Regions from separate parts of the Homo sapiens genome. Here all the other regions are linked to region 5. The links come from fine-mapping of genetic effects on gene expression. A gene starts in region 5. Each other region holds a variant in brackets. All regions are shown on one strand. Distances are between the middles of the regions.

Region 1 (6,136 bases), 190 kb before region 5:
ACACAGGAGGCTGAGGCAGGAGAATCACTTGAACCCAAGAAGCGGAGGTTGCAGTGAGCCGAGATTGCACCACTGCACTCTAGCCTGGGCGACAGAGTGAGACTTCATCTTGAAAAAATAAATAAATAAATAAATAAAAAGATTATTTTAGTGTTTTTCATGTATATGAAGTTTGAATTTGCATTATAGTATATGTGTTATGATAGTTGTATCATGTCATTTTACCTTACAATAGGAGGTCTAAGAACAGTTTTTTATATGTTGAACATTTCAGCTCTTAATAACTACCCAGAAATTGTCACTTGAAAATGCCATTATAAAAAACCAAAATGTGTTCCTGTCTAGGCAGACTTCATCTATTTGAAACATGGAAAAAGTTTAAGGTGCTCATTTAGTTCTGCTAATTATTTATTGTAGAAAAAACTGGTATTTTTTGTTAGTAGTCTGTTAATTCTTACCTTAAGCAAACTGGTTTCCATAATTTGGATGGAAAAGAAAACACCTTTGCATACAGAATCAGATTTCTCCTACTCAAAGAATTGGACTGTGCTTGGTGTTTCAACAAATATTCATTTAATAGACAAATATTTGAGTATCAGTATCTGACAGAATGTTCTAGGCACTGGGAAACAGGTAAATAAGATAGGCGAGATCTCTCTTCTCATGGAACTTATGTTCAAATGGGAAAGTCTGGTTATAATACAAAGACACAGTAGACAGGGTAACATCAGAGAGTGGTCAGTTCTGTGAATAAAATAAAGAGAAAATAAAGAGAAAATTATTTTTATCTAAATAAAGAGGGTAATGTGACGGAGAGTGATTCTGGGGAAGGCCAGGTGGGGCTACTTTGAAAGTGTCTGGGAAGTCCTCTCTGAGGAGGGGTAATTTGAGTTAAAACCTGAATATTGCCAATGAGCCAGGCTTGCCAAGATCTGTTCATGGCGAGGGATCAGCAGGTACAAGATTGGGAGGCAGCAGTGAGCTGGGCCCCTCCCAGCAACAGAGGGATGGTTTGTGCTGAGTGAAGTGAGTGAGAGCACCCTCCAGTGAAGATGAAGAGGGGCCAGTCCCAGATCGTGGAGACCTTCTAGGGCATGGCTAGTGAGTTTCTCACCCTTTTGTAATCCAGGCCTGTGAATTGATGCCAAGTGAGATTTTGTGGAGCTTAACTTTTTGTAGTGGATATTACAAAAATAATGTAACTTTAACAGTCTCTGTCTTACCCTCCCTGCCCCTCTCTGGCCATGTTCACATAGAACGTGTTTCATCTCTGCTCCCCATGATAGCCCTTCAGATACTTGGCTCCGCCATCTCTCTAGGCTAAACATCTCTAGTTTTATCAGCTGTCCTTCCCTGCTTGAATGGGCTCTTCAACTTCAAGATTTCTTTCTTCTCTGAACACATTTTTTTTAAATTTTATTTTATTTTATTATTATTATACTCTAAGTTTTAGGGTACATGTGCACAATGTGCAGGTTAGTTACATATGTATACATGTTCTGAACACATTTTTTTAAACAATCTGATTTTATTTATTTTTAATTGACAAATAATGTGCATATTCATGGGGTATATAATGATATCTTAATACATAGAATATATAATGATCAGATCAGGATAATTAGCATATTCATAATCTCAAACATTTATCATTTCCTTGTGTTGGGAACATTCAGTGTCTTCCTTCTAGCTATCTGAAACTTTATATATTATTGTTAACTATAGTTATCCGGCAGTGGTGGAGAAGTCTGGGACTTAGTCCTCCTATGTAGCGTAATTTTGTATCCTTTGCCAAATCTCTCCCTATTACCCTCTTCCCCCTACCCTTCCCAGCCTCTAGGACCCGCTGTTCTGCTTTTTACTTTTATGAAATCAACTTTTTTTTAGCTTCCGTATGTGAGTGAGAACATGCAGTGTTTACCTTTCTGTCCCTTAATGTCTGAGAACCTCAGGAATTGGTCACATTCTGATGGTCTGAGGAGAGCAGTGGAAGAGGGATGAGATGCTAGGGTAACCATCATCAGGGTTTTTGAGGGCTGTGTCTTTTTCCAGAAGCAATGGCTCCCTATCGTGTTACTTTTCTAGAGTCCTGAATGGGCAGGGGCCCTGTGTGGGAGACTCTGTAAGCAGAATCTGACAGAGTTGTTCCCTGGTCCACCACCGTCTAACACCCCATGGCTAGACTTGCCCGTCCATATCAGCCTTATGTAAAGCAGCTCTTCTGTTGGCCTCACTTTGATTTTTCTCAGTGTGCCCCATACCACGGGCACTGTCCACACAGGAACATCAGATTGGAAAATATCCCTGAGTTCCCTAAGAGACAGGCACTACTCTGAGGATCTTCCTGCCCTGGCCCCACTTGCTTCTTTCCTGGGGTAGGGTTTCTTCCTAGCTTGCTTCTGACTGTTCTTTCCTGGGGGGGATCTTCCCTGCTTCGAAGTGTTTTCTGTGCACTATGGTGCAGGGGTTTGTGAGGGCAACTGTACAGCTTGTTTCTTTCTGTTTCCTCTCCACAACCCATAGATCTGAGATTATCAGGTTTTGCCCATGTGGAGGTACAATGGGAAGATCCTGTGTTCCCCCAGGACTCTTTAGCATGTCTT[C/G]TTTGATTTACTGAATTACTTGAGGGATCTGTGTTTGGGCTGGCAGAAGAAGATAAGGGATTCCAGAAATTCTTGCCGCGTTCTCCTAGATAGCTGGCTACATTCTCTTCCTCTTCCTCTTCCTCCCCCATTGATAAGGCCTGGGGGTAAGAGAGAGTCCAACTCAGATTGATCCTGTAGTTGACCTCTTTGTGTTTGTCACTCATTCTTGATCTTTCTAATGAAGAAAGTTGGCCCATTAATTTTAATTATGGTAATAATGTCATTGAAATCACACCATTCATTTAGCCTAGGTATTACCCTACTCATGTAGAATTAGATAATAAATGCCAAAGTGGTGATGTAGATCCTGGCCTGTGGTTGGTGCTGAGCTAGGGGGTTCTATTCTACTGCTACTCAGATAGGGAGTGGTTGTCCCCTGGAAGATAAGGGACTTGTCTGGGGTTTTTAATGCCAGTGTTTTTGGGCTCCCACCTCTGTGTCCTGGATTATTTGAATAGTCCAGACCAGTGATTCTGAAAATGTGATCCCCAGACCAGTAGTGTCAGGCTCACCTGGGAACTTGTTAGAAATGTGGAGTTTCAGGCCCCACCCAGCACCTGTGGAATATGAAACTCTGGGGGTGGGGCCCAGCAATCTGTGTTTGACAAGCCCTCCAGGTGATTCTGATGTGTGCTCAAGCTTGACAACTGCTGGTCTGAGCCATCAACCTGACTGCCGTTTTCCAGGGTTTTTTCAAGAAGTGTCTTAGACTCTAGTGTGAAAGTTGCTACTCTGCAGATTGTCCTGTTAAACTGGGAAAGGGCTCAGGAAAGTTCAAAAGGGATGATGTATGGGTTTTTGTGTTGGTGTGTAGCTGGTGGGGAGGAAGGCACTCTGAGTGTAGCATGAGGCCTGGTGCAGCAGGCCTGGTCACTGGGGACACTAGGTTCAGAACAAGGAATACAAGTGGCACTTGTGTTAGAGGAACCAGAAGAAGAAAGAGGCTTGAAGACTGGCTTTACCACCACAGAAAGGCTGTTGCCTGCCATGTGGTTTTGGGCAAGGCCACTTTTCCCTGGCCTGTGCCTCAGTGGGCACTGCCTCTTTGCTTAGATGTCTCAACTTTTCTGTTCTTCCACTGGCCAATCCCTTTGCTGATTTAAATATATGTAAATATAGATTTTTAAAATAATTTAATCTACCTGTAGTCAGGTTTACCAGCCTGGGCACCTTTCTGTTTTCCTCAGGTAATTTTGCACCTTTCTGTGTGGATCTGATATATGTTTTATTTTTCAGTTTAATGCTCAGGTCTCCTGAGCTTTTGCAGAGCAGAGCACATCCTCCCTTCCTTTATAGAGACTATGGGGGAGACTTAGCAAGGGATCTATTCTAGTCTTCTGATTTCAGCCAGACCCTCTATCTAACAGGCCACTTTGACCCCTGGTAAAAGTCAAGAGTGTGCCCATGTGCCAGGAACTGACAGCCTCTGCAGAAAAATTCCTGTGATGAGAGAACTCACTGTGTGCTTTTGCGAACACTCAGGATGTTGAAGGATAGTTACAATAGTTACAGATTTTTCTTAACTGTACTGAAAAGATGACTCTCAGGCTGCAAGAAACACTGAAATGCCTTAAGGAGTGATGCTGTGAAGTGGCTGGAAAGGAGCTAAAGCTGGAAGCCTGGGTTGTTTGATAATAATAGGAGCTCTAGATCCCCGAAGTGACAGGTTGTCTCTTCTGAATTATCTTAAGGCAGATTTCAGGGCTCTTCCAGGCTGAAGTGGAGGTAAGCTGAGGTGAAGGGAGATAAGATTCTGGGGCATTTTGTCCTGGAGCATGTCCCAGTCCCTGGGCATAAAGGGATAGACCCAGGGAACTCACAGCTGTTGGGTATGCAGGCTGTTGAAAAGGCTCTAAGAGATAAAGTGGGAATGGCCTGAGAGTTAGAAAGGGAGCTAGACAAGCAATCAGGTCTGAGTGGAGTAAGGAGAGGGTATTTAAGAATTTGTGCTGATGGATTATTTTTGCTTCCTTTTCGCCTTGACCATTTACTGAATGTTTGTCTATCTTGCTGAATAGCAGCCAAGAGACTCTAACTTCTCTTGGTTTCCATCTGTATTTAGTTGGATTGTCTGTTCCCTTCTCTTCTGACAATTCCCTGAAGAATGTCTCCTGATTTTAGAGGGGGCCAGGGAAAAGGGGCCCTTTTCAGAAATCAAGCTAGATCTTTCCTATTTCTTCCTGACCCTTTTTCTAAAGCCTGAGATCACTCTTTTCTCACCCCTTCCTCTCAGTATTAGGTTCTGCTGCTCTCTTTTCCATCTCTAGATGGGTGTTTCTTTACTTTTCTTTCTTTCTTTTTAATTAAGTGGTTACCTTTCTGTCTGAGCTATTGGCAGGGATTTGCCAGGAGATCCAAGGCAGAGCTGCCAGCTTACTGGAGTGTGACAGCTGCTGAGGCCTCCCGTCTCACAGGCTCTGCAGAGATCCAGGGCTGTCACTTCAACAAGTGTCAGATATACACACTCTGCTTGCAGAGCTCCCCATGCATAGCCTTAAATAAATATCCCAGATATATCTGCCCTGTTTCCCATCTCAGACTCCTCTTTTCGTCTCCATCTGGTTTTCAAACATGATTTCCCAACTTCCCAATTACCATCTCGCAAGACCCCTATATGTCCCCTCTCTTCTCTTCATCTCTCTGATAAAATAAGGAACCAAAACAGCCATTACTACTTTAATAGAGCAGAGAGTCTATTCCCTTGGCTGCGATGAGTTTGCAAGACTGCTCTGCCCAGTCTTGTTTGCAGAGAGCCTGGTTGGTCCATCTCTGTAGGTTGTGAGTTTGCGCTGGTTTGGGAACCCCTCTCTCTGGCTGAGGAAAGTCCTCCCCGTATTTAAGTACCCTTCAGTGCTGGCTGTGCCCTTTTTTGTGTTGAGACGTTTTCTCAAAGGGCACTGTGGTTTCTACTTTCCTGCTGGAAGTTCCATGTCTGTGCAAAAGTTTCCTGTAACCTTTCAAGGTTTGTACTCTGTTCCAGAGGGGCTCTTGGATATGAAAATGGTCTTTTTTTCTTAAATGATCTCACAGATGATCAAAAGGAGCACATAAAAGCTGTCCTGGGGATTTGGCAAGGTTGCCAGTGTTCTCTTTACCTTTGGTCTGGTATTTAGGTCTGAGACAGTGTCTCGCCAACAGCCCTTGCTTTCCTCGGGGGGTTGGGGCTGAGAGACACAGAAGGGGAGGCAAGAGGGGCGTATTAATTCCTCTAGGAAGTAGAACTTCATTTTTATTCTAGGAGAGCCATTTGAAATTGGGTTGGCACATTCAGTCCTGAAAAAGTGACCTTGCAGGAGCTAGAATTTTATATCCAGCATTATTTTGGAGGACCTGGCCAGCAGTATTTCCCCTGGATGTATTATTGCATTAACCCTATCCAGTCACTCCTATGAGGTTTGTCTGGACTAGGATTGCTTGTGCCTCATAGTAGAGGAAAAGCCAGAGATGATGTTCTCTGGACTCACGGAAGCCGCTTAGCAGTTCTGTGATTT
Region 2 (6,136 bases), 150 kb before region 5:
TAAAAGCTGCTTGTTAATGGCTGTGATTGGAATACTTGACATTGTTCACTTCCTTTTTTCCTCTTGGGGATCAGAGAATTAAAAGGCTGTTATTGGAATTGATTTATTTTGCCACTTTTATGTAGAACATTTTATCTTCCCTGCTCTGTCATACAAAGTGGAAGTTCTTTCTTTTCCTCAGGGAAGCTGAAGAGTGTTGTGATCTTCTTTTGTGCTTAGAGTGTGTGTGTGTGTGTGTGTCTAAGTGTGTGTGTGTGTGTTGCAGATGCGGTCTGCTGACACAGCTACAAGACAGCTTGCCCATTCTGTGGGATTCTCTCTTGTGCTTTGATTCTGCTAACCTGCCTCAATTTTATGCTGGTTTGGCTTACCAAGGGTGAAAGTACATGAGACCAACCCCAAATCTGAATATTAAAAAAATTTTAAAGCAAATAGTTATTTGCTTTATTATGTACCTATTATGTACCTATTATGTACCTTTATTATGCACTCTATTATGTAATAGACACTGATTTAAGTCCTTGTCATAAATGAACTCATCTAATCCTCATAATAACCCTATGATACATAGGTATGGTTGTTTCTCCCATTTCATATACAGGAAACTAACACACAGAGGTTTAGTAACTTGCTGAAGGACTCATAGCCAGAAAGAGGATGAGGCAGAATTCAAATTTACAGTCTGGCTCCATAGTCTGTGCCCTTAAGAATTAAACTGTGTAGTGGTTCTCAAACTTCAGTGTGTTTTAGAATCTACTGGAGGGCTTATTAAAACACAGGTTGCTGGGCCCCACCTTCAGAGTTTCTGCTTCAGTAGGTCTGAGGTAGGGCCAAGCACTGGCATTTCTAAGTTCCCAGGTTATACTGATATTGCTGCTCCAGGGATTACACTTTGAGAAGCATTGAGCTATATATGGAACCCCTGGTGTTGCTCATCCTCATGGCCAAAGCAAACAGAGCTTGCTAAGTAGCTCCTCCCCACCCCAATGCCTGTGGCTCTTGCATGGTGGTGGCTGGCGGGGTAGTTGTACTGCTGTGGCTCTGACTCTCCCAGGAGGGTCAGACTACCCTAGACTCTAACCTGGTTGTTTTCCAAGTGTCCTCCTTTACTTGAGGTATGTCTTTAAAAATAACATCTTTATTGAGACAAAATCAATAGTGTACAGTTTACCCATTTAAAGTGTAATATTCAGTGATTTTTTTTTGGTAGATCCAGTTGTGTTACCGTCACCACAATTTAAGAATGTTTTCATTATCCCAAGAAGAAACCCTATACCCAATAGCAGTCACTCCAATTTTCCCCCAATAACCATCAACCTTAGAAACACTTGATGAACTTTTATCATTTATTTTAAGTACTTTATTGTCCAATCCCAAAGATAGATATGACTTTCTGGGACTTTATTTGCAAGGCAGTGTTTTGAACTCAAGCCTCTCAAAACTTTGCTTTGTGGCCAGGACTTGTGAGGATTTTCTTGGCCTACTAAGTGGTTCCTCTTCTTCCAAGAAACTCGTATGAGATGTTTAACCTCTTCTCCATGCTCCTGAATACTTTGGGATTGGAGATCTGACTCTGGCACCTTGGAATGGTTTGTGATTTTCTTTTTTCCTTTAAAATTCAACAGTTAGGGAAGCATTACACATGTGGTAGTAACCTACTTTGAGAAACACATCTTGTCTGCTATTGGACATACATGAAGATGAATAAGACATGGTTTTAACACCCAAGGAATTTAAAATCTAGTAGGAAAGACCAACATGCATAGAGAGGACTGCAAACACAGGCAGAATGTGATTGGGCCCAGGAGATGGGCAGAGTGCTGAGGAAGCACATTTTGCTCATGGACAAGGGGGCATGGTATCTGGACCTTGAGAAATGGGTATCATTCCAGTACATGAAGATGAGGAAAAGCTATAGGCAGTGAGAAGCAGAGCTAGTATCCTAGCAATGAGTTGGGAACAAGAGGGCTTTAAAGGAGCGAGGGTAGGAAGTCACATTGGGCTTATATCATAGAGTGCATTGAGGACCACCATGCTAAGGAGTGTTCCTATTCCATAGATAGTGGGAAAATGAGGAGTTTTAGATCAGGGAATGGCAGAGCTGTGCTCTTGGATGTCTCTTTTATAGAAATTTTTCTCTTGGATGTCTCTTTTATAGAAATTTTTGTCTTGTGAAGTTGGCAAGATCATTGTGGCAGCTCTTCTTCCCAAGTTGCCCAGGGTCTCTAACTTCTGAATTCCTCCCACGTGGAGCCAATGTGTCTCTTCCTCTCTATGTGTCCTGTGCCACTTTGTGTCCCCATCCTTCCCAACTCACTCCCTCCTTAAAATTCTTGCTGTCCTGTTCTCCATGATGTTTCTAATCTAAGGTTTCTATCACAGGAGGAATGGGTGCTGCCATAACTCCTGAGTCCATTCCAGAAACCACAGATGGGTTTTCACAGTGCTCTGTTGCAGGACCACAGCTCCACACCCACCCTCACTCCCACTCCCATGTGCAGTGCCCTTTGTGTTTAATCAAATTGAGTGGGGAATTGTAGCCACATAGAAGAGGCTGTTGCTTCTGGAGTTCTGCAAACTATACCCTGCAATCGGCTGTTGAGGCAGAACCCTACTCTGATTCCAACCCCTCGCTGGTTGTTTTATGCCCTGTTCTGACAGTTCCCTGGGCTGAGTTTGCTCATCACATTCTCAACCTGTTCATTTAGATTTGGGCTACCTCCTTTTATTGTTTTAAACCTGAGCGTTCCTTCAGTAAATCCTGAATATGTGAAGAAGAAATGTAGTACAGAGAGAGAGAAATTTTTCCTATTAAACATTTTAAAACTTTTTTTTTTAACTTGCCAAGTGTTATGAGGTTTAGATCCTGGGGACCTGATTCTGAAAGCTTTTCCCCCATAGAAGGGTTCACTCAGCTAACTTGAATTTGAACTTAATCTTACTCATCTCCCCACAACAAATCATTTTTCTCTCTGTCATGATTTCGTTGCACTCTGTGGCAACAGGCATGACCCTTACTGGGAAGCTCTTATGTAAGAGCTTGCCTAAGTGAAGAAG[A/C]CTTCCCTGGCGCTGGTATTGGCTCTTGGTAGCATGAGCCTTTGTTGCCTTTTTCCATTGCCCTCTCCCTGATCTCTGCACCTTGCAGGTCCTCACTGTTGCGCATACCTGGAAAGGGGCCATGGGGAGCCTCGTCAAGGCTGACTTGTCAAAGGCTCTTGCTGGTTTGTGTTTCAGGCTCTTGGAGCATGGTCAACAGTGCGGAAACATGCTGCATGGGGAGATCAAAGCTTCAGTGGCCAGAATGATGCAGTCACTACTCTGCTTAATTAAAACCAGGCCTGTGTACGTGGTTTTAATTAAGCAGAGTAGTGACTGCATCACTAGAGGCCAAGGGGCAGTTACAAGAAAGGTGATGGTGGTTAATTCCTGGCATTCCGTCTCTTGGTCCACATGGGGCCAGTGTTCAAGGAGCACTTGCCTGACTCACTGATGACATGAATATGTTTCATGCTCACATACATGCATCCATGTGTTTAGATCATTTGCTGATACTTGTCGCATCAGTTGGATAAATCAAAGAAATATAGAATCTGAGATCTAGAAGGCACATAGACATCATCTGGTTTCATTCATTGGAGATGAGAAACTGAGGCCAGGGGGATCCTCCAAGAGTTTGTTAGGAGCACAGTCTACATGTTAAGTGATATTTCATGTCACTTCCCCAGTCCCAGTTTAGAGTTGTATTGTAAATGACAAATATAGGTTAGTTAAATTCTCATTCATTCGTTCCACAGATGTTAACTGATCACCAGATTCTGTGTATCAGGGTCTTTGATTTCATTACTGATTTCCCATTCCTCTGGCTTCTTTCCACCTCAACTCCATAGTACAGTTCAGCTTTCCATTCCTATGCTAGTAGCTGTCCAACTTTCTAATACCAATCAGCAATTTTGAATATGTACAACTGTGCTACCATTTTCCTTGGTCACTAATAACAAAAACTACCATTATATTGAGCCCCTATGAACCTGTTAGATGCTTTACAGATACGATCTCACTTAATCCCCAGGAAAATATTTTTAGCTGACTTGCCCTTCACAACATACCATTCATATTTTCACAGCTGAAGGGCTGCAAGCTTGAGCAGTGTGTCCAGGGATACCCAGAGAGTAACTAGCGGACATGTCTTTCTACTCCCGTCCATCAGTCTGCCATTAAAGCACACCCTTTGCCCATATGTTACTTCTGTTAAGCCATGAGGAAGCAGGGCAAGTCATCCCTCTAGTCCCCTCTCTCCTCTTTCCATTTTTTGCTTTCTTGAACACTCCAGCCCCCCTTTCCCTCTTTTTCTTTGGTGGGGGATGGGGGGGCAGGTGTATTCCTGCATTCCTCAATTTGCCTTCCTTTCTGTTTCCCTTGGTTAGAAATGTTGTCTCTATAAATCGAAACCCATAGTTCACAGGCCAGTCCATGTATTGCAGAAGAGTCTGGCTGGTTTCAGGCTTCCTGGTCTGCATGCAGGCTGTACTTCCTCACTGACCTGTCTTCACCCTCCTTCTTAGGCATCAGAGGAGCCTCTCCTAGCTAAATTGCTAGTTACTTGAGAAGGAAAATGTTTCATCTTGATGGTAGCATATTATTCAGAGCCCTGGATAACCCCCAGCTCTCCTGGAAACACAATACGTGTATGTTTGATGGAATTTATCTTGATGATTGGTGAGAGGGTGGTGATTTAAACCAGCTCGTTTCCCGTTTACCACTGAGGCCAGCTCACCTTTGCTGGAGAGGGTTCTTGACTCTTTCTTTGTAGCAGGAACTCCCAAGTTAATCAAGTCTTTTCAAGAGCTTCAGGCTGAAAGTCAAGATCCCTCAGGTTAGACCCAATGTTGAAATTTTAACTGGGCAAATTCTCATTAGAGACAAAGGGCCAAAGACTGTGCTGGTGGAATCTAATGTCTTTTAATGTTGACTTCAATCCAGTAAAGCCCTTGTTAAGCCATTTAACTGTAAAATTGGGCCTTGGGAAGGCAGGACACCCTCTGAAATTAGAGGTCAGGAGATTTGAATTTGATTTCCAGCCCTCTGCCAGTCAGTCAGCCACTCACTCTCAAGCCTTAGGCTAGTCACTTTCTGTCTGTTTCTCAATTTTCCACAGGGATTTTTGTGGGCATTAAGGCCCACTGGGAAATGATCCCCTTTTCAGCTCAGTGCCTGGTTTGTTAAGGATACTGGTCAATCTGGACTTTAACACACCTATGATTTTGGATTAACTCTATTACCTCTGCCAGAAATTAACACAGAAAATTGACAGTTGATTGACAAGAAGGAGAATCAGTTTTAAAGAATTAAAATATAACTGAGTCCTTTATTACTTAAAGAATATTCAACTCAAGTGGACACAGATCACCCATTCTAACTTCATCAGCTATAGCACTTAAAGGAGGCAGGCTTTGCGGGGACAGTGTTAGCTATGTACTTTGAAAAAGTCGTGTGCTCTACAAATAAAAAGCTACTTTTGTTGTTACTTTTGGTCCCCAGTAGAAATGGAAGTCATTTTCAGAGAGCATGGGAGACACATGAGTCCTTTGCTGTCCTCTTGTCTGCCTCTGAGGGTGAAATGAGAGGAGTGTGAAGCACTTTGGGGTGTGGCCAGGCACACAGCTAGGCTCGATGCAGAGCTGCTGTCGTGGTGGTGTGGCCCCAGTCATCATGAGCCACATCTGACAGGATTAATCACATTTCATATGCAAGCATGCTCTCTGCTTGACCGTGCTGTTGTTTTTAATGAGAGCATCATTTACAGTATGGTGCAGTGCTTTAACCTGATAGCCCTGCCTAATTTTGTTCTGTGTAACAATGTGTGGACTTGAATAGGAGGCAGGGTTGGGGGAGAAGGAGGGAGAATGGACGTATGAATAAGAGAAAGGTGTCTCTTCCTTTGGAGCATGGATGGGTTCCAGTCCCCACTAACCCCCTCAGCTGGGTATTTTTGTGCGGGTCACAGCCTGTGCTACATTAAGCATCAGCCCTGGTTGGGGATAGAGTCTACAGGGGAAGGGTTAGGGCTTCATCAAAGAAGCAGCTCTCTTAAGTGACCTCCACTTAACTTACCTGCTAGTCTCCATTCCTTCTGTAA
Region 3 (6,136 bases), 160 kb before region 5:
ATATACATTTCTATAGCTTGTTTTCTTTTTACTCAATGATAAATCAAAGATGTCCTTTCAGGTCAATATATGCAGACACCTGTACTCCATTTCTTTTTAATGGCCTCATAATGTTCTGTTATATAGATTAAATTATAATTTATTTAATCATTCTCCCATTGAATATTTGTGTCTTAAAAATTATTTGCCATTATAAAAAATGTTGAATAAAAAATGTTGCAATATTGCAATGAATTTCGCTTCTATTTCTTTCCTTGCTCTCTCTGGATTTTTACAGTTCTTATTCCTAGCTGTGGAATAGTGGAATTGGAGGTGGTGCCAATTTCGTTAGGTAATATCAAATTACTCTTCAAAAAGTTGCACCAAGCCTTACTTCCTGCAGCAATATGTGACAGCTTGAATGCACATGGTTAATTTTCAACTTAAGCCACGTTATTGAGCATGGCAGTATACAAGGAGCACAGCAGTGTTGTATACAATGCGGTATATAATATCTAACACGGCTAGTATCATAAATTTCTTCCTTGAGCACAGGCAGTTGTTTCAGAGACCTTTTACTTGACTGATGTTAATGAAAGAGCTCATTATGGACTTGGGTGCCCCTGCATTGTCAGGATCCTTTGCAGTGTGAGGACTGTTAAGTGGTATTGACACCTCTGAGGTTATCTTCATTTGTGTACAGAAGATGCATATTGGTGCATCTTTCATCAAGCAGAGTTTTTTTTGTTTTGCTTTTTTACTTTGATAATATTTAATGCAAATTATTTGATGCTAACTCTGCCTCAACTGTGATTACTACTCAACTTAGTTCATAACCCATAGAGGCACATGCCCACACACAGGTGGCCTGTTACATTTGCTTTTGCTGGTTGGTTATGAAGTTGTACTATATTTTACCTTTTTGGGGACTTATGTTTTATGTTGGCCATGATGAGAGCATTTTTTGCATAATTCTGAAAAGGCATGAAACTGCTGAAATAAAAATGAAAAGAGAAACAGTACATCCACTTTTAAGCATGGATATTTGCATTCCTTGTGGGGTGAGGTTAAGATCACGTGTGCTGATTAGGTCAAGAGAATGGAAGAAAATGGGTGTGATAGTTATGAGTATTTACATACAGATCACACTATTCTTTTACCATTTTGTCATTGGAGAGCCATGAATAAACCCACCTGTTGTCACTTCAGCTCATTTATTGGTAATAATGCAGTCTTAGCTTTTTGTTCAAAGACGTTGTAACATTTTATTCAGGATGTTGAGTGTAAAGTATATGTAATCTTTAAGAAACTCATTCTGAAATTATATCTAAGACAGTTGAGATTATTCCTATTACATGTAAGAGTTAAGTGAAAAAATACCTTCTTTAGAATGGAGAGAATCTAGTTACAGAATTTTCTCCTCTTAACTTAGAGGTGCAGTTTATAGACCTCCCTCCCTCCCCAAACTTCTGTGAGTTTGTTTTGTTTTATTTGTTTGTTTGTTTTTTGGTCTTGTATTGAAGAAGCAGAGAAACTCAGTTGAGGACAAGAAAACAACTAAGAAAATTCCTGAGATTATTTGAAAGCAGCTATAGAATAGATTCTGTATTGCCAAAAAGTGTGTAGGGGTGGGGTGGGGGAGCTCTGTGATAATTAAGGACAGGTCGGCAGAAAGGCTTCTGGGGTCAAGCTGAGCATAATGTTTGGAGGAATGTCTGAAAGAGGTTGGGGCTCCAAGGTCAAGACGTAGAAAAAGCTTTAAGAAATCTGAGGTTAAGATCAGGGGTTAATTAAACTGATTAAGACATTTGTGAGAAAAAAAATTTAATTGTGTTTATCATTGTTTACATAAAATATTTTCTCTCTGAATCATCTGCTGTTCAGTTCACCTGTTTTAATAGCTGTGGTTTTGTAGGTAGAGGATATAGGAAATTATTAAAATTTCAAAGCATGCGCCTTGCAGTTCAGAATACCTGCTACCCATAATGGCAGTTTAGTCTATTTGAAGGAAAAAGCCAAAAGGAAGCCTAAGATGACAAAGTCAAGATAAGCATTTCAATACTATACATGAAAATATATATGTGCATATGTATGTATATATAATTTATTTTTGAATCAAAATGGCACCTTTCACTCTTGCCTGGATACGGTGCATGGATCATGGATAATACATTTTCTGCCAGAGTCACTCTGTTAAGGGCACTCTCCAGTTCACTTTGGGAAGTTTATGTAAATACTGATTTTAATTTGTACTGGGTGACACTTTGCATTCACAGGTTTAAAGGCTGTAGAGTCATTAACTTGTAATTAACAAATTTTGCAGTCCTAACGCTTTTCATTCCAGATCTCAGAGTGTTTTGGGGACAGAAAAAAAAAAAAGCACAGAACTTTTGTGCAGGTCAGGGATCCACTCAGGAAACAAGGAGAGAAATGAGTTTTTGAGACCGTTCATTCATTCAACACATATTTATTGCCTGCTTTTTTATTCAAGGCACTTATTTTTTCCAGGATTGAAATATATTCTGGCAGTTTCTCCCTGCTTCTGACATTCATAATTCTCCATTTGGTAATGAACTTTCATTACTTCATTACCTTGGTTAAAACAATAAACTTTTTTGACAGAGGAGATCAAAAGTTGGCAATGGAAACTTAGGACATTATTTGATGTTCAAGGTGGTTGAGCTTTATAGGTGCAGAGGCTTAGAATTGGAATGCTGGGGGTCAGGAGAAAGGTCACATAGAAAGACAAGTGCCAGGTTGGATGCAGGTAGCTGTGGCACTAAGAGCAATATCTCTTCTGATGGAAAGCTTTACTTTAACTAATTAAACATGAAATAAAAGTGAAAAATTGTACTGAACAAGAAGACAGAGGAAATGCTACAGACTCATCCCCTGAGCCTGATTTTATCCAGAGTAACTTAGGGCAGGAAAGGAGAGAAGTTAGAGAGGACAAGTAGTGCCTGTCTTTGTTCCCAGGAGAATTGACCAGAATCTTCCCTGTTGATTTTGGCTAAGACTGATGTTGTTTCCAGGATGAGACCCCATGTCCTGAGGGTCACTGCCTTATCAGAGATGGGCTGGGGGCTCTTGGGTCAGTGAGCAACTCAGCCAGTAAAAGCAGGGCCCCCGGGAAGTCTTAAACAAAGAAAGAAGTGAGCATTGAAAAAGAAGCATCTCAGTAAAAATAAGGTTCTAATGAGCTTTCTTCTTGGCAACCATTCTCTTCCCAGTGACATGTCTGAGTCTCAGAAGTCCTGCAGGTGATATTTGCCACTTTTCACCACCCCACATACTTCTCCTTGAAGTCAAACCATTTAATTTGGGGCCTGCTGTGTGTCAGCACAAACTTTAGCCATGTCTGAGCAGAGTCCTCCTAGGGTAGGGTTATGAGGTCACTCTCCTTATTACTTATTCACGAGTTTTGGGTAGCTCTCACCTTTCCTGAAGGCCTGGACCATCGTCATGGCACAAACCATGGCTAGTTGTGGGGCAGTGTGCCTTCTGTCTGCACTGCCTCTT[C/T]CCTCACTCCCTTCAGTGTTCCCACTCCCTAGACCAGGACACCCTCCACCACAGAAGATGCTCCAGCCCCACTGTATCTCTAAGAGCATCACTCACCTTCCTGAGCCTCAGTTTCCTGCCTGTAAGATGGGTACAATAGTATCCACAGTGCACAGTGCCTCTTCTTCAGGTAGGTTGTGTAAAGGACGATAAAGTGAGTGTTTGTGGGAGTGTTTTTTGAATATTATAAATTAAGTTATGCTTTCCCTCTTCCAAGGAGGATAAAAGTGCCTGCAGGTGCCTCATAAACAATCAGTGTTGTCCCACGATCCATTTCCTTAAAGTTTTTCTCTGTCACAGATGCAACTAACCCAGGTAAGGCTGTCAGTTTGCTAACCTCTGCTGTTTTGTTCACTTAAATGGGTGGGAAGTTTTGGGATCAAGTCTCAGAGAGGCTTGTGAAGTCCTCCCATGTTCTCTGCCTTCACCACTGGCACAGTCCGTAGATTACTGATGGTGTCATTAGGATAGAATAGGCCCTATAGTCACCTCTACTTTAGCTGCAGAATACTAATAGCTCAAATTATTTATTTTTCATACAATGAAATTATTTTAACAAATTAATTTTATGTTAAGAAGCAAGGAATGTTATAGAGAAACGAAAGCAAGATAAAAATATTTTGCTTGTATTCAACATTCAAGGAATGTTTATTGGCTGGGCGTGGTGGCTCATGCCTGTAATCCCAGCACTTTGTGGGGCTGAGGTGGGCGAATCACCTGAGGTTGGGAGTTCAAGACCAGCCTGACCAACATGGAGAAACCCTGTCTCTACTAAAAATACAAAATTAGCTGGGCGTGGTGGTGCATGCCTGTAATCCCAGCTACTTGGGAGGCTGAGGCAGGAGAATCACTTGAACCTGGGAGGCAGAGGTTGCGGTGAGCTGAGATCCCACCATTAGACTCCAGCCTCCAAAAAAAGAAAAGAAAAGAAAAGAAAAGAAATGTTTATTGATTACCTGCTATGGTGCTAGGCCCTGGGGATTTAGCCTTGAGCAAAATGACACATTCCTTGGGCTGGTATTGTGGGGCAGCTCTAAATACTAAACCTAACATCTAAATACTTAATATTTACTTACGTAGTATTTACTTAGTAATTCTTAGTATTAACATCTAAATACTTAGTATTTACCATCTAAATACCAAACCTAACATTACAACAATAATTGTGAACTTGCAAATTGTGATGAGTGCAATGAAGGATTAGTAAGGATTGTAAGGGGACCCTAACAGAGTAACCTGATTTAATTTGGGGGCATCAGGAAGGCTTTTCTGTGGATGTTCTATTGAAGCCTTTACTAACTTTTAATCCTTAGTTTTTCTGAATATTTACTTTCACCTGTATGTAGGCCAGTACAACTCACTTTCCCTCCTTAGGCTGTATGTCTTCCTAAGCTCTGCTGCTAGTTAGAGAACAAGTGGTAAATATCCCCATTAGCACTTTGTGTCTTTGTAAGCTAGCTTTGCCTTCAGGGAGCTCTGAAATTCTTCCCTCTTTAATAGCTCTTTGATGACAGGCCTTGGACTCTGTTCTTAACTCTTCTTTCTCAGTATACTAGTGACTTTTTTTTTTTTAAATCCCCAGAGGGCCAGTTTGTCTAAGGGGGACAGGGAAGAATATACAGGCCATCATACTACCTGAAATGAAATGCACCATTCATTCTCCTTTGAGTTGTGAGTTTTAAGAAAGAAAAGGATCCTGGATAATGATTAATACATGGTTATAGAAAATGTGTTTAAAATATTTAGGCTAAAAAAATTATCACCCTTAATTCCAACATTACAGAGTTATCTCTATTAACATTCATAGAGTAGATTCTTCCAGTCTTTCCCCCGCTGTGCATTGATGTTGTTTAATCTATTTCTATATACAAAAACATAAATTTTTCACACATATGAGCATTTTTAGTATTTAAGAGGGCCATATTAACATTTCCTGGTGGACTTGTTGTGAATAAAGTACAGTAAGCACATTCAGAATTATTTCTTCTGTTCCAAACACATAGGAACAATTTTAAAAATATAACAATTAAAAAACAAGGGGGAAATCTTAGAAACCAAGAATGGGGATTGATGGCCCAGACTTTAAGATCTCCTTTCAGTGCACTTAGCACATGACAGGAGATCAGAACCATCCTCCTGTGTGGACTGGGGTTGGGACCATGCTCCTTGCAAGTTGACTGGAGCCTAATCACTCATGGTTGAACTTTGTGGCAGGTAGCTCTCCCATGGCCCAGGAAGGAAGCAGAGATAGGTGTGAGAATAGGACCTACAACTGTGCAGCACACACATATCTTATGTTTTGTTGTCCGTTCTAGAGAAAATCCTAAAAGCTTACTTTGGAACCTTGTTCAGAGTTGTATATCCTATTGGTCAAGGCTCAATCATTATTTCAGCTGCTAGTGAGGGGCAAATAAGGAGAAAAAACCCTCCTATGCAAGATGAGTTTGCAAACAAATTTCTGCACTCATGGAAAACCACCACTATGAGAGACAGGTGGAAGACCTGTCAAACAAGATAATTTAAACCCTAAAAAAGAGAAACCAGGGAGCAGTCTGAAAAGTTTGAAAAGTGTGTATATTTAGAGTATCGGAGAAAGACA
Region 4 (6,136 bases), 45 kb before region 5:
TCTTTATGTTAATGTCATTCCCCCAGGAGTCTAACACACACAACTGGGGTTTTAGAAGCCTAGGATCTAGCCCTGCCTCTCACTGGAACCCTGAGTGACGTTATGTAGGTCCCAGCGTTCTCATCTATAAAATGAAAAGAATCGTCAAAATCAGCATTTCCTAAATGTGTTCTGTAAAACATTTATCAGCCAAAATGTTTCATGTTAAAACTACCTGATTTAAGTTGCTGAGAAGGTCTGATGATAAAAAACATGTTGTTTAACCCAGAATTTCCCAAACTAATTTCACAATGGAATCATATTTTTTCCATGTAATATGTGTTAATATCCTGGGAACTGTTTTTCTGCAGAAGAGATTTTGGAAAACACTATTTGTGCCCCTAAGGACCCTAGTAAGTCCATCATTCTAGAAACAAACTACTAAGCCTGGCTTTCTACAAGAACTTCATTTTATGCATCTTTTGTCTTCAGGCCTCTTTAGCAGATGTTTAGGTACCTTGTCAAGTACCTTGTCAATAACACATGCCAGGGTCCAGATTTACTGATGGGTGTCCTATTCCCTACCCTAGCTCCACAAAGAGAATTATGCTTTGTTAACTTAGCCTCTTCCTCTATGGAGATTTGTGCCCTTAACCACCCTGTTCCAGGCTTTTTAAATGCAAATCATGGAGTTGGATGAAAAGTGCTACAACTGGAAAGATGGCAGGAATAAAAGAGTAACTTGCCAGACTTCACATCTAGATAATAGTATAGCTGAGAGGGAAAAAACATAAATGAGGCTAAGTCAAGCTGCATTAAAGAACTGATAGAAAGGGGAATAGGAAGAGGGAGAAAAAGAAAAGCCATAGGCGCTGGAGATGAGAAAGTTTAGAGTTTGGGAAAGTGAAAGGCTCGTATGTGGCCTTGTGTAGGGGACCTGGGGAGGAGAGAAAAGGAAATACAAAGTCTCCCTGATGGTCATGAATTGGCTCGTCTGTAAGGTTCTGACAGATGCAACAAAAGACTGGAATTCCCTTTTAATTCATTTTGAGTATTTGACTGTGCTTCTGACTTTAGTTTCGTACAAAGACTGGACCATGTGGACCTTGGAATTTATTAGAGTTACAAATAACGCATTATCATTTGCCAGGTTCTTTAATAGTTAATCTTATTTTATCCTTATAACACGTCTGTAAAGAAGGTAAGACATGTAACTTTCACTTCCCAATTTTACCGATGAATAAACTGAGGCTCAGAGAGGTTAAATGACTTGCCTGAGTTCTCATGAATAGGCACTGGCTAGAATAGAACCAGGGAGACATGCAGGACAAAAGAATTTTGAGCAGGAAACCTAGGTAAGAGGACCATTATGTTATATTTGCCTTGCTATCAGATCTAACATAGCAATACGGACGCAGTGGGGGCATCCACTTCTGACAAAACCTGAGTTTAAGACCAGTGCTCACTTGGAACTTTGATCTTGAAGTGAAGCACAGAATGGAGTTCCCATTATCCGTGAAAAGGAGTAGTCATCTGGTTCCCTATCATGTCAATTTTTTTTCCATGTCTCGTAGCTCTTACAGCGAATTCTGATCTCTGGCTTTCCTGTTTCCTATACCGCTTTCATCCTCACCTACTGAGACCCTAGCTCTTCATAGAGTTGGTTCTCAGGCCCTTTCCTGGCCTGGAGCCATGCAGCTGAGGGGATTGTTTCCAGTCAGCCTGGGCGTTGAGCCCTGTTGCTGCTGAGCTGTAGGTGGGAAGGCTGGTTTCCAAGCTAAGAAAGGGAAGTGAATTGTTCGGCAAAGGATGCAGAACTGGGGAGGGCTGGGGAACACATCTGCAAGGTTTTGCTTGCCCTTCTGCTTAGCCTCCAAACATGGTGATTTACCTTTTTTATAAAGCACTTCTAATGTCAAGAGGTAATAGTTAACTTGGGAAGGAGTTTTAACTGGCAAATCATAGGAATGCTTCAGAAGTGGTGGGCGGGGGGAAAGGACTATAGAGGACATGTGTGTTGCAGAGATGTTGCTGGGTTGTTGGAAGTCAATAGGGAGTCCTCTTGACTGGAAGCCCGCAGATGTGGGTGTTCTCCGGAGCCCTCGTGTTGGTCATAGTGTAGAAAAACCTTGTCTGAGATCCTTTTTGTGTTGGGACTTTGGTTATTGCTGTTTCATATCACATCATGTCCCCTGCGTATATGCTCATGACCTCTAATGGGGTGTCATCATCACCCTAGAGTTCACATGGGGAAAGGGTTACCTCCTCTCTTGGTTGAGAATATGGGTCAGATGTCTTAGCTTTCCTGGTTGAGGGCCTCCCTCGACCTTGTTCCCTGCACAGCTATTACTCTGTACCTATGGATCTTCCTTGGGCCACTCACACAGATAGCCAGTGTGGCTCCCACCTTGGGAGTTGTATCCTTGAGCTAAGTTTTTTTTCAAGTGGGCTTTCACCAGAAGCTAGAAAGCAAAAATATTGCAGGAATATAACATGGTACCTGCTATTCTTCTATACTCTAGATTATCTAAGTTCCAGCCTCATATTACATCAGATAATAATATCTAACCTGTTTTGATTAGTTGCTATATGCCTGAGACTGTTCAAAGCTCTTTACATGAATGATCTAACTTTATTCCCACAGCAGCCCTGTGAGGTAGGTGCTGTTATGCTCTTCATTTTATAGGTGGGAAAATGGGGCCTAAAGGTACATAATGTGTGTAAAGACTCAACAAGTAATGGAGTCAGAACTGAACCCAGAGGGTCTGACTGTGGAGCTCACACTCTTACCCACTCCATTATACTATTGTTGTTGGCTCATGAGGAAGTTAT[A/G]TAACTCAGAAGTTGCTTTGTTTTCCAAGACCCATTTGTAACTGGGTTCTGCTGTAATTATTACATGGGTATGAAGAGCTCCTTAACTCCGAATGGCCCAAATCACTTTAACATAGATTTTCCTTTTTTCCTCATAGTATCTTTTTGTAGTTAATATTGACTCAATTTTGTAGTTGAAGAAGAAAAGGCCCAAGGAAGTAAATCACCCTTGGTCACACAGTGAATCAATGATGCCACTGAAATTAGAAACAGGCTTCCTCCTTCTCAGGCCAGGACTTTGAACGCTAAACCCTATTACACAAAACTCATAAGAAAGATACGTGAGCCTTTCTGGACTTGAGTTTTCTCTAGCCATCAAATAAGATGAAAGGCATCTCAGGAGTGCTGATTGTTGTGTGTGAAGTGACGTCATCTTTAAGGAACAAATTCTCTGTGACTGGGAAGGATTGTCAGGATTGTGGTGGAGGGACCCTAGCACTCTTCAGACCCATGCTAGAAAGGAGGGATGGGAGTGGGTCTTTTCCTCACTGTGAGCATCCAGTGGAGATGCTTGCTAATAACATGGGCATTCCTTGTTTCCCCTCCTTGGGGGATATAATGATAGTATTCATTTGCAGGGCCTTTTGCCTCTCGAGAAGACTCTTGCATGGTCTCTTGACCTCTCCCGTGGAGTGGATGTCATCCTCCTGTCATTTTCTTCTAGCTCTAGGAGTATATGGCTGTCTGCCCTGATTACCAGTGACTGCACTTATTAATGCATCAGTGCGTGAAGTGCTGGTGATTAACAGGAGCTGCAGGCATCTCCCCATTATCTTCATGGGCAGCTCCTTGAAATAATTTTGCCTGCAATCACAGCTCGATTGGTTTGGGTTAGGAGAAATAATTTCCTCCTATAATGCTGTCACTATCAAATTGGGGGCCACAGCTGTGAAGTTGAACTGTCCTTTAGAGGTTGCAATGGATTTTGAATGATGATGACAGCCATGTGCTAAAGAATAAGTCACTTGCCTGGTCAAACTTACGAGATGAAAGATAGGAAAGTTCTAAAGTTAGGGAAAGAGTCTGTTTTTTATACTTTAGGTTGAGTTGGGAAGTCAAAATGCAGGAATCATGGGTCTCAGAACTCATCTAGTCTGAATCACTCTCTTTGTGGATGAGAAAATCAATACTGAGAAAGGAGAATTAACTGTCCACAGTCACCCAGTTGGTTCTGACAGCACTGGGATTGTAACTCAGACTTCTTTTCTCTGGGGTACTAAGTTTCATGGACTAGCAGAGTAGAAGGAAAAACACAGCTATCTGTTGGAAACTTTAAGATGCAGTATGTCCTGTCAATGTAGAAAATCACACCTGCTTTGAAACTAAACTTTCCTTATACTGAGCAATATTCTGATGTCCAAGGCATCACCTCAACCAAATTATATAATCAAAGCCACAAAATAATGTGTTGGACAAAAACCTAACCCATCTACCATTTCAGAGCCTTAGTACTGTAGATCCTACTGTATGTAGAAGTCCAAATATAAATGTATTTTCATGCTTTGGCATTGTAAATTCCATAGATTAAGATCATTTGATAGATATAAGCTGAATCTTTTACTAAGATTCCCCCCAACCCAAAAAAATACATTAAAGAAACATGACATTCAGTTCTGTTTTTGTTGAGATTCTGTGGCAGTTAAGGTCAAGACAAGGACATTATCTTGTATTGCTGTGATAGATAAGAATTATAAATCTGTGAGCTGTCCCACAGCTGACCTCATGGACTTCAGTTCTCTAAAATTCAGAACCACTTGTCAGTCAAATTTGAGTACCCAAAAGAGATGGGGGAGAGGGGGAGTGGAGGAGGGGACAGGGGAATAGTAAACTAGAGAGCTGGTAGACCATTAAAGAACCTTACTTGAAAGATGTGTGCCCCCATTATTCTCTTTTCTCCTCTTATTATTGTCATTGTCATCATCATCTTCATCTGGTATTTTGTACTTATACTCTCTACTTGCTTATCTGGTGACTCTTAATCCTCTTTGTAAGTTGTAAAGTAAAGAGAGAGCTTCTTCCAGGACAGTGAAATTCAGAACAGTGCCCAAAATTATTTATCAAATCAGCTATAGAATATGACTAATAAGAACCATTCTTTACATGCATATGGCACTTAAAGATTCCCAAATTTTATAGGACCAACCAACTACAAAGTCGTTAAGAAAGAGAATAGAAAATAAAATCATGGTCTATGGCCATACCACCTTGAATGTGTCTGATCTCATTAGCTAAGCAGGGTGGGGTCTGGTGTGTACTTTGATGGGAGAAAATAAAATCATGATTGACTATAATTTTTCTATGGGCCAGTGAGGTACAGGAATCAACCTTTTGATTTATGTCTTCCTAAAGCTACCACTGTCGGCTTTTGTTTGCTTTCGGGTGTACAACCCACAGTGATTGTGAATATAGTGTTATTTTCATGACCATTGCCGCAGTTCATCAAATGTTGACTCCTGCTAGGTATGAAGTTGATACCCACATTAGGTGTGCTGAGGAGAACAGCTGTTCATTGCATTTGGACTTAACTTTGGTTCTGGCTTGAGGGATGTCCTAGGGTTGTGGGAGAAGGAGCTGTGTCAGCGTGAAAAGATGGGTGGTTTGAAGAAACATTGCTGTGTGTATAAGGTAAGTGTATACAGTTTTAAGCTCCCTTTCCAGCTGTATTTTCACAAAATTGCCTGTAGTTGACACTCCCATGAGCAGGCTCTCCATCTGGAGCTAAGAGCCACTCTGAGGTTAGAGATCCCTTTCCAGCTTTGAAAATATCAAAGCAACCATATCCAGCCTAATCTTGACAATGAAGAGCCCACAAATGCTTTTGGGCTGCTAATAGAAAATGGCTTTTGGACGAGAAGATTTGATCCGTGTGGCAAAGCACTTTTATGGGCTTATGTAAAACTAAACTGGATTTGTACAGAAATAATGCAGTATAATGATGCTTTTTTTAAAAAAAAAAAAAATCTAGTAAATTCCAGAGAATGGCCAGATTTTGGAACTCAAAAAGGCTGCTTTCTCAAGGTTCCACTTGTTTACCCTTTGTACCTCACTGCCTTCAATCTTTAAACCTCTGCTTTAGTCTCCAAAGGCCTGTATGTCGTCATGAGGTGGGAGCAACTGCTTCACTGTGATCTAGAAGACCCACAGACAAGCATTCATAAAAACTTCTGGAAGGGACTTTTTAAAGCTGCTATTTACCAGAGTTCTCCCTCTTGGGTGCAGACATGGCTAATTAATGATAAAATCCCAGCGTGTGTGATTCTTGCATTTTGGGGTTGAAGGCAGAACC
Region 5 (6,136 bases):
TTTTTGTGGATGACTTACATCCCCAGATGCCCTCCTCTGCTTGGGTGTGTGCATGTTGGGGGGTACTGTTGGGAGGGCCACCTGGCTGGGGTCCAGTCATCTCTCTGTCCTCCATTGCCATTATTTTCTGAACCATCAAGCCTCTAGTCCTGAAGCAAGAGAGATAATGTGTGGGGGTCATTAGCGTCATCATCAAGAAAGGGACCCATTGCACATCCTCAGACATAGGGATAAAGGGACCCCCCAGCCAGAGCCCCACTTTCACTTTGAATAGAAGGGCAGTTATCCGGGTCTGACCTCAAGAGCCCCTGAAGACCACTCCCATAGAGGGAGTTTTGAGTGGTTTTTATAAATGGAAAAAGACTTGTGAGCAGTTTCCCTACAATGTCAGTCCATCATGCAATTTTTAAGAATTCATATAAAAGTCAAATTCAATTAAACAAACTTATTAAATGCCTACTATCGTGCAAGACCCTAAGCTGGGCATTGTAGAAGATAAAGAAACACTTCAGGAGCTATGGCCCTCAAGGACCTTACCATTTTAAGACAAGGTGTATTTACTGGAAAGACTTAGACAAGGGTAAAGGGAGTGCATGGTAGGCTATCTTTACATTACTTAAGAATTCAGTGCGTTATAGACTATGTTATGAAGGGTAGAGAGCAAAAAATACAGGAAATCCAAAATGGTGCATAATCCAGAGTTCTGTTTATTACAAAGAGTGTTTTAAAAATAATAATAGCTTATAATTTACTAATCACCTTGACAGGTGTTTTTGGTGCTTGCCTTTTTAAAAACGAGTATGTCTGCTCTGAAAAGTCACTTTAAACCAATAAGGAGACCACCAGGGAAATGTCTGATTTGGGAAGTGGTGGCAATTTGCCTTCCCCGGGCATTTCGTACAGTTTCATTGTTGTCTATGTACTTTCTGGTTTGGGGGGAAATAGTTAAATGGTTTGGTTTCCAAATCTTCTTTGCTAGTTTGCGGATGACGTGATTAAAGAAAATAAGAAGGATGTGGGACCTGACAGGCAAATTGTGCCAAAGTGGATGATGTGGCAAGATACACACTTAGGAGAATCATCAGGAGTTGATGACCCTGCTTGCTGTGGAGCGGGCTGGAAGCTTCTGCTGGTGTGGTGGGTCTATCTGGAGCCCAGCCAGCTTGGGCCCTGTGTCCCAGGGATGCTGTCATGCTGTTCCCTGGCAGGTCCTCACCCTGCAGTGGTGCAGGCCACAGGGCTCATCCGCAGAGAGTAGTCTCCACTTCACTTCCCACAGGTTTTCCTCCCTGCCACCCAAAGGCCCTTAGAATATGGCATACCTAGGTAGTTGGCCTAGAAAGGATAGCACCACTGAAACCACAAGAAAGGTTTTCACTGGCCCGGGATACAGCAGTGCAGGGCAGAAAGAACTGCTTTACACAAAAATTCAGCAGAAGAAAAAGTACACCCTAACCCCAGTTACTCTTAGAAGAGGCTCAGTGAAAATAGACACTTAGCAGAGGTGTTCACAAGGAAAGGAGCCTAGTCATCAAATGATCGAGCGATCTCCTTTCCTCAGACTGACAACATATCTGGGGTAGTTGGTGTAGACAGAAACCTTGACCCAGATTCCAAGGCCTCAGAGTGGGTCTGGCTGCCTGATGACTGAGCTGGATTTCCAGATAGGGAGAGGATGGCCAAGTGTGAGTGTGTGGACAGCATGGCTTAGAGCCTGGAGCTCCAGTCATTTCAATAACAAACCTTTAAGCTACCACCTTGGCCACCACAATTTTCTATCTACAAAATGGGTTTTGGCGATTCAAGATCTGTATTGAGCACAGCTAGGTACCAAACCCAGGCTAGGTGTTGAAAATACAAAGATGAATGAGGCATGCTCTCTGCCTTGCAAATCTTTACAACCTAATGGGTTTATACCCAGCTCTTTGAGTTAATTTTTCAAGCCAAAGAGGATCCCTACAAGAAGGACCATGTACCAGGCATATATAGGCAGCTGTTCCATGATCTATAGCAGGGCAAAGTTGTGGACAGAGCCCTGAGCTGTGGGTTAGAAGGCCTGAGTTCTAGCTCCAGCCCTGCTAGTATTTAGCTGTGTGACCTCAGGCACGGCACTGCATTACGCGGAGTCCTGCAGGCTTCATCTGTAGGTAGATATCCTTCCATGTACCACCTCCCTAGGTGGTTGTAAGGATTAAGTAAGCTGATGTTCATTGGGATCCTCGTGCTTCACTGGCACCGAGTTCCTATCCATTTGGTACGAACTGATTCTGAACCACCACTTAGCACCTCTGCAAGAGCTGGCCCACTCGCTCAAGGCCCACCTCTGTAGACCTGAGGAGCTGCTGCCCCATTTTTTGTGGAGAATATGTGCTATACTCATGGCCTTCAGTGGGGAGCTTCTAACACCAAGCCTCATCCATGCCATCCCTCCACCAGCTTCCAACCCACTGAGAGCTCAGCACGTGCTTACGGTGATGTAAAAATGTCATGTTTCATTGCTTCATCCTCATTTTTTCTTTACTCCAAAGGGCGTGGTGACTCCAAGGTAAAGGGGCCAAGCCCATGAGTCAAGGAGGCAGGTTTACAGGAACAACTTTATTTTTTTATGGCTAGCATTAGTCACTGATTAACTTGGGTGGGGCAGAGCTAGAATTTCTAGTTCCTGTCCCATCAAGAAAACTACACTGGAAAGTTCAAGAGTGTCTTTGCTGGCTCTTTCTTGAATATTTCCAAAGCCTTGGAAGTTACAGGTTTTGGGTGTGGGATAAGGAAAAACTGAATGATAGAGCACAGGTACCGCTCCCCTTTCCTCATCATGCCTCTCTGTCGCCTCTTTGTTCATAGTTGACCACGGCATGTTTGAGAATTTGAACACAGCCCTCACTCCAAAGCTCCAGGCCAGCCGCTCCTTCCCCCACTTGTCCAAGCCCGTGGCCCCCGGCTCTGCCCCTCTGGGCTCTGGTGAGCCTGGGGGGCCAGGACTCTGGGTGGGCAGCAGCCAGCACCTCAAGAACCTGGGCAAAGCCATGGGGGCCAAAGTGAATGACTTCCTGAGGAGAAAGGAGCCCTCCAGCCTGGGCAGTGTGGGTGTGACAGAGATCAACAAGACTGCAGGAGCACAGCTGGCCAGTGGGACTGACGCGGCTCCAGAGGCTTGGCTAGAGGATGAAAGGTGAGCCCCTCACCCGCCCAACATCCATGCCCCTCTGTGGACCCACTTGAAAAGGTACAGGGACAAACTGCAGTGTCTGCACAGGAGAACAGCCCCAAGGGAGGGGTGTGAGATTGTCCTGTACTGAAAAGCTGCAGGATCAGGCCACGTTCTCGGGAGCTGGCTTCACCTTCTGCAGCCACAGCTGAAGGTTGCTGAGTGCCCACCATGTCCTCGGCTCTGTGCTGCTGAAGGTTGCTGAGTGCACACCATGTCCTCAGCTCTGTGCTGCAGGCTATAGTTGCATCATTTTGTCTAACCCTCCCAGCAGCCCTGGGAGGTAGATGATATTTCCATCCTGCAGATAACTCACGTTCAGACAGACAAAGTAAATAGCTTGAGGTCACAAAGATAGTACTTGGCAGAGCTGGATTTGAACCCAGCTATTGCCCAGAAGGTCCCCAGGTAGATTCTGATGCCCGGCCATAGCTGAGAAGCGCTGCCGTAGACTGTTGCTTGTGGAGAAGCCTGCACCTGTCACAGCCCACTAGGGCACAGTGGGAGAAGCCCCCTGTAGCAGCCCTCCTGTTCTTCCCCCTCCTACCAACAGGCTCTTTCCAGGCCTTGTTTTAAACACCTGTGCATCTGAGGTGGGAATGCCCTCACATTCCCTGTTTTAAACACAGGACTTACTGCCTGGGTTCTGATTTGACAAGCTTCACCAGCGGTCTCTATCCTGTCTTCTAGAGGCCAGCACTTTGTGCTGCTCTGAACACTGAGTAAGCATGGACCAGGCCAAAAGCTACTGTTATGCTGAAATTGCTAAGGCCTATGTGCCAAACCAAGAACCAGAGCCCAAGGAGTAGAGCAGTTATTGGGTGGGGTGGGTTGAAAGTGCAGTTGGAGTTGGAGAAGCAAGATGGCAGGTGGATTGGTGTCTTGCTGTCCTTAAGGCATGTGTGTTTATTGTCATTAACCTTACAGGTCAGTCCTGCAAGAAACATTTCCTCGGCTGGATCCTCCACCTCCCATAACCAGAAAGCGAACCCCTCGGGCCCTGAAGACCACCCAGGACATGCTGATTTCATCACAGCCTGTCCTCAGCAGTCTGGAGTATGGGACAGAGCCATCACCTGGGCAGGCCCAGGACTCCGCTCCCACTGCCCAGCCTGACGTCCCAGCAGACGCTTCACAGCCAGAGGCCACCATGGAAAGAGAAGAGAGAGGCAAAGTTCTGCCCAATGGAGAGGTTTCCCTGTCAGTACCTGACCTAATCCACAAGGATAGCCAGGACGAATCCAAGCTAAAGATGACTGAGTGCAGAAGGGCCTCCTCCCCCAGCCTTATCGAGAGGAATGGCTTCAAACTCAGCTTGAGCCCCATCAGCCTGGCTGAGTCCTGGGAGGATGGCAGCCCCCCTCCTCAGGCACGGACCTCCAGCCTCGACAATGAGGGCCCTCACCCAGACCTGCTGTCCTTTGAATAGAGCCTCTGCTCTTTCCTGCTGAGCTCTGCCCTTGTCTTCCTGCTGCTTTCTCCTCCACTGCGCACACTGGCCCTGGCCTCAACTCCGCTGTGCCCTTTGTCTTCCTTGTATGAGGCACCAGCAGAGAGCCAGTCGTCCATCATGGGATTTTGCAGGACTGGAAGTCCTTGAGTAGTTCTAGTTAAAGAGTCTATCCGCAGAATGGCTGAAGGACTTGATGCCGTTTTGAGCCTAATTTTCTGTAACCTCCTCTGAGTGGGCTGCAGCCCTTGGACATTAGAGCTCTTCCACTCTTGAGCTTGTCCTGTCTTCTCAGTGAATTGCAGGGCCACCAGCTCAGGACAATGGATCTTACAGGAATTCTTTTTGCCTGTCCCCTACATGCGCCTCCTCCCCTGCTGTTCTCCCTCCCACACCCCTGTCCCTTCTCTCTCCTCCTTGATGGGTCCGATGCCCCTGGCCTCAGCGGGAGGAAGGCTGGATGAGGAATGATGTGTTTGGCTTGATGACAGGCCATGGCCTAGAAAGCCACACACCCTGACCACAGCCCAGCCATAGCTCCTCTTGGTCCCAGGACAGTGCAGGCCCCTGGTTGCCATGTTTGCTCTGCCCCTGGGGTGGAGGCCAGAGGAGATGCTTACCAGGCCTGAGACCTTGAGAGTTCACCCAGGGTTTGAACGCTGCCACCCAGGGTTCCCAAGGTTTCTCCCATCTGGTCAGATGTCGAACACAAAATGTGGGCATTCTGCACGGAAGGAAAGATCAGGCTTCTCTTGCTGAGTGTGTGAAGACAGGGAGAGCCAGGCCCCAGCAGATGCGGCCTAGCACACTCTGATTTGGTTTTGTGGGGAGGGCCCAGGAACTTGGGGGTGGTCTTGGCATTCAGAGCTGGTGCTAAAAACCCAGAGCAGAAGCAGGGAGAAGGGAGTGAGGATGGGACAGAGAAGAGCGACCACTGGGGATCAGAACAGCTTTTCAGGGGCCACCTTGCAGCCTAAAATAATGCCGTTTCAGGGCCTGGGCCTGCTGTGAGAGCCAGAATGAAGCATGTACAAGATTGGAATGTGAGAAGAACTGTGGGGGGAAACCAGTTTTAATTAAGTGGAAGTGCTTTGTGCTTGTGCTGAAGTTGCCTGGGCCTCCTGCAGCTCTGGACCTCACTGGAGCGGCCCCGCCCTGCCCTTGCCTGCCTTTCTTTTATGCTGATGCTGGTGGGCTTTTTCCTGCTTCAGGATCCATGTAAGGGACTGACCAGGTTCATCCAGCCTTAACTGGTTCCTGCAACCCACTTTTAGGTCTCCCACCAGGGGCCTATTGTGCTGTCTTCCTGTGACCAGCAGATCCTGTAAGGGGGTGATCCTAATTCTGGGGCTCTTTGCAGCAAGAGGAGAACGTTCTTTTTCTTGAACAAGGTGGCCGGTTCCCTGGGAGAAGGCTGGGAATGGCACGTCCGGCCAGGGCAGGCGGTGCGGCATCCTCCTCCTGGGATTCCTGTGGCC

Evidence for each region.
Region 1: its variant is fine-mapped to the expression of C1orf226 in lung (TOPMed, PIP above 0.99). The same link has a PIP of 0.9 or more in subcutaneous fat.
Region 2: its variant is fine-mapped to the expression of C1orf226 in whole blood (TOPMed, PIP above 0.99).
Region 3: its variant is fine-mapped to the expression of C1orf226 in blood mononuclear cells (TOPMed, PIP above 0.99).
Region 4: its variant is fine-mapped to the expression of C1orf226 in whole blood (TOPMed, PIP above 0.99).

The regions. Positions count from the first base shown.
Region 1 is chr1:162,188,946-162,195,081 of GRCh38, forward strand. All of the region lies in intron 2 of NOS1AP (nitric oxide synthase 1 adaptor protein), which reads left to right. Among named protein-coding and RNA genes, the nearest start is that of MIR4654, 35 kb to the left of the region's middle. The variant C/G (reference allele first, on the strand shown) is at 2,604.
Region 2 is chr1:162,232,314-162,238,449 of GRCh38, forward strand. All of the region lies in intron 2 of NOS1AP (nitric oxide synthase 1 adaptor protein), which reads left to right. Among named protein-coding and RNA genes, the nearest start is that of MIR4654, 78 kb to the left of the region's middle. The variant A/C (reference allele first, on the strand shown) is at 3,058.
Region 3 is chr1:162,221,822-162,227,957 of GRCh38, forward strand. The region is part of intron 2 of NOS1AP (nitric oxide synthase 1 adaptor protein); the gene reads left to right. Among named protein-coding and RNA genes, the nearest start is that of MIR4654, 68 kb to the left of the region's middle. The variant C/T (reference allele first, on the strand shown) is at 3,499.
Region 4 is chr1:162,333,606-162,339,741 of GRCh38, forward strand. All of the region lies in intron 5 of NOS1AP (nitric oxide synthase 1 adaptor protein), which reads left to right. It also overlaps the pseudogene RNA5SP61. Among named protein-coding and RNA genes, the nearest start is that of MIR556, 5.9 kb to the right of the region's middle. The variant A/G (reference allele first, on the strand shown) is at 2,812.
Region 5 is chr1:162,379,047-162,385,182 of GRCh38, forward strand. It overlaps C1orf226 (chromosome 1 open reading frame 226), which reads left to right and starts at 2,682. Exons shown (of 2, transcript NM_001085375.2): 1 at 2,682-3,172; 2 at 4,136-6,136. The coding sequence starts at 2,856. The coding sequence ends at 4,637. RefSeq lists a silencer at 3,333-3,627.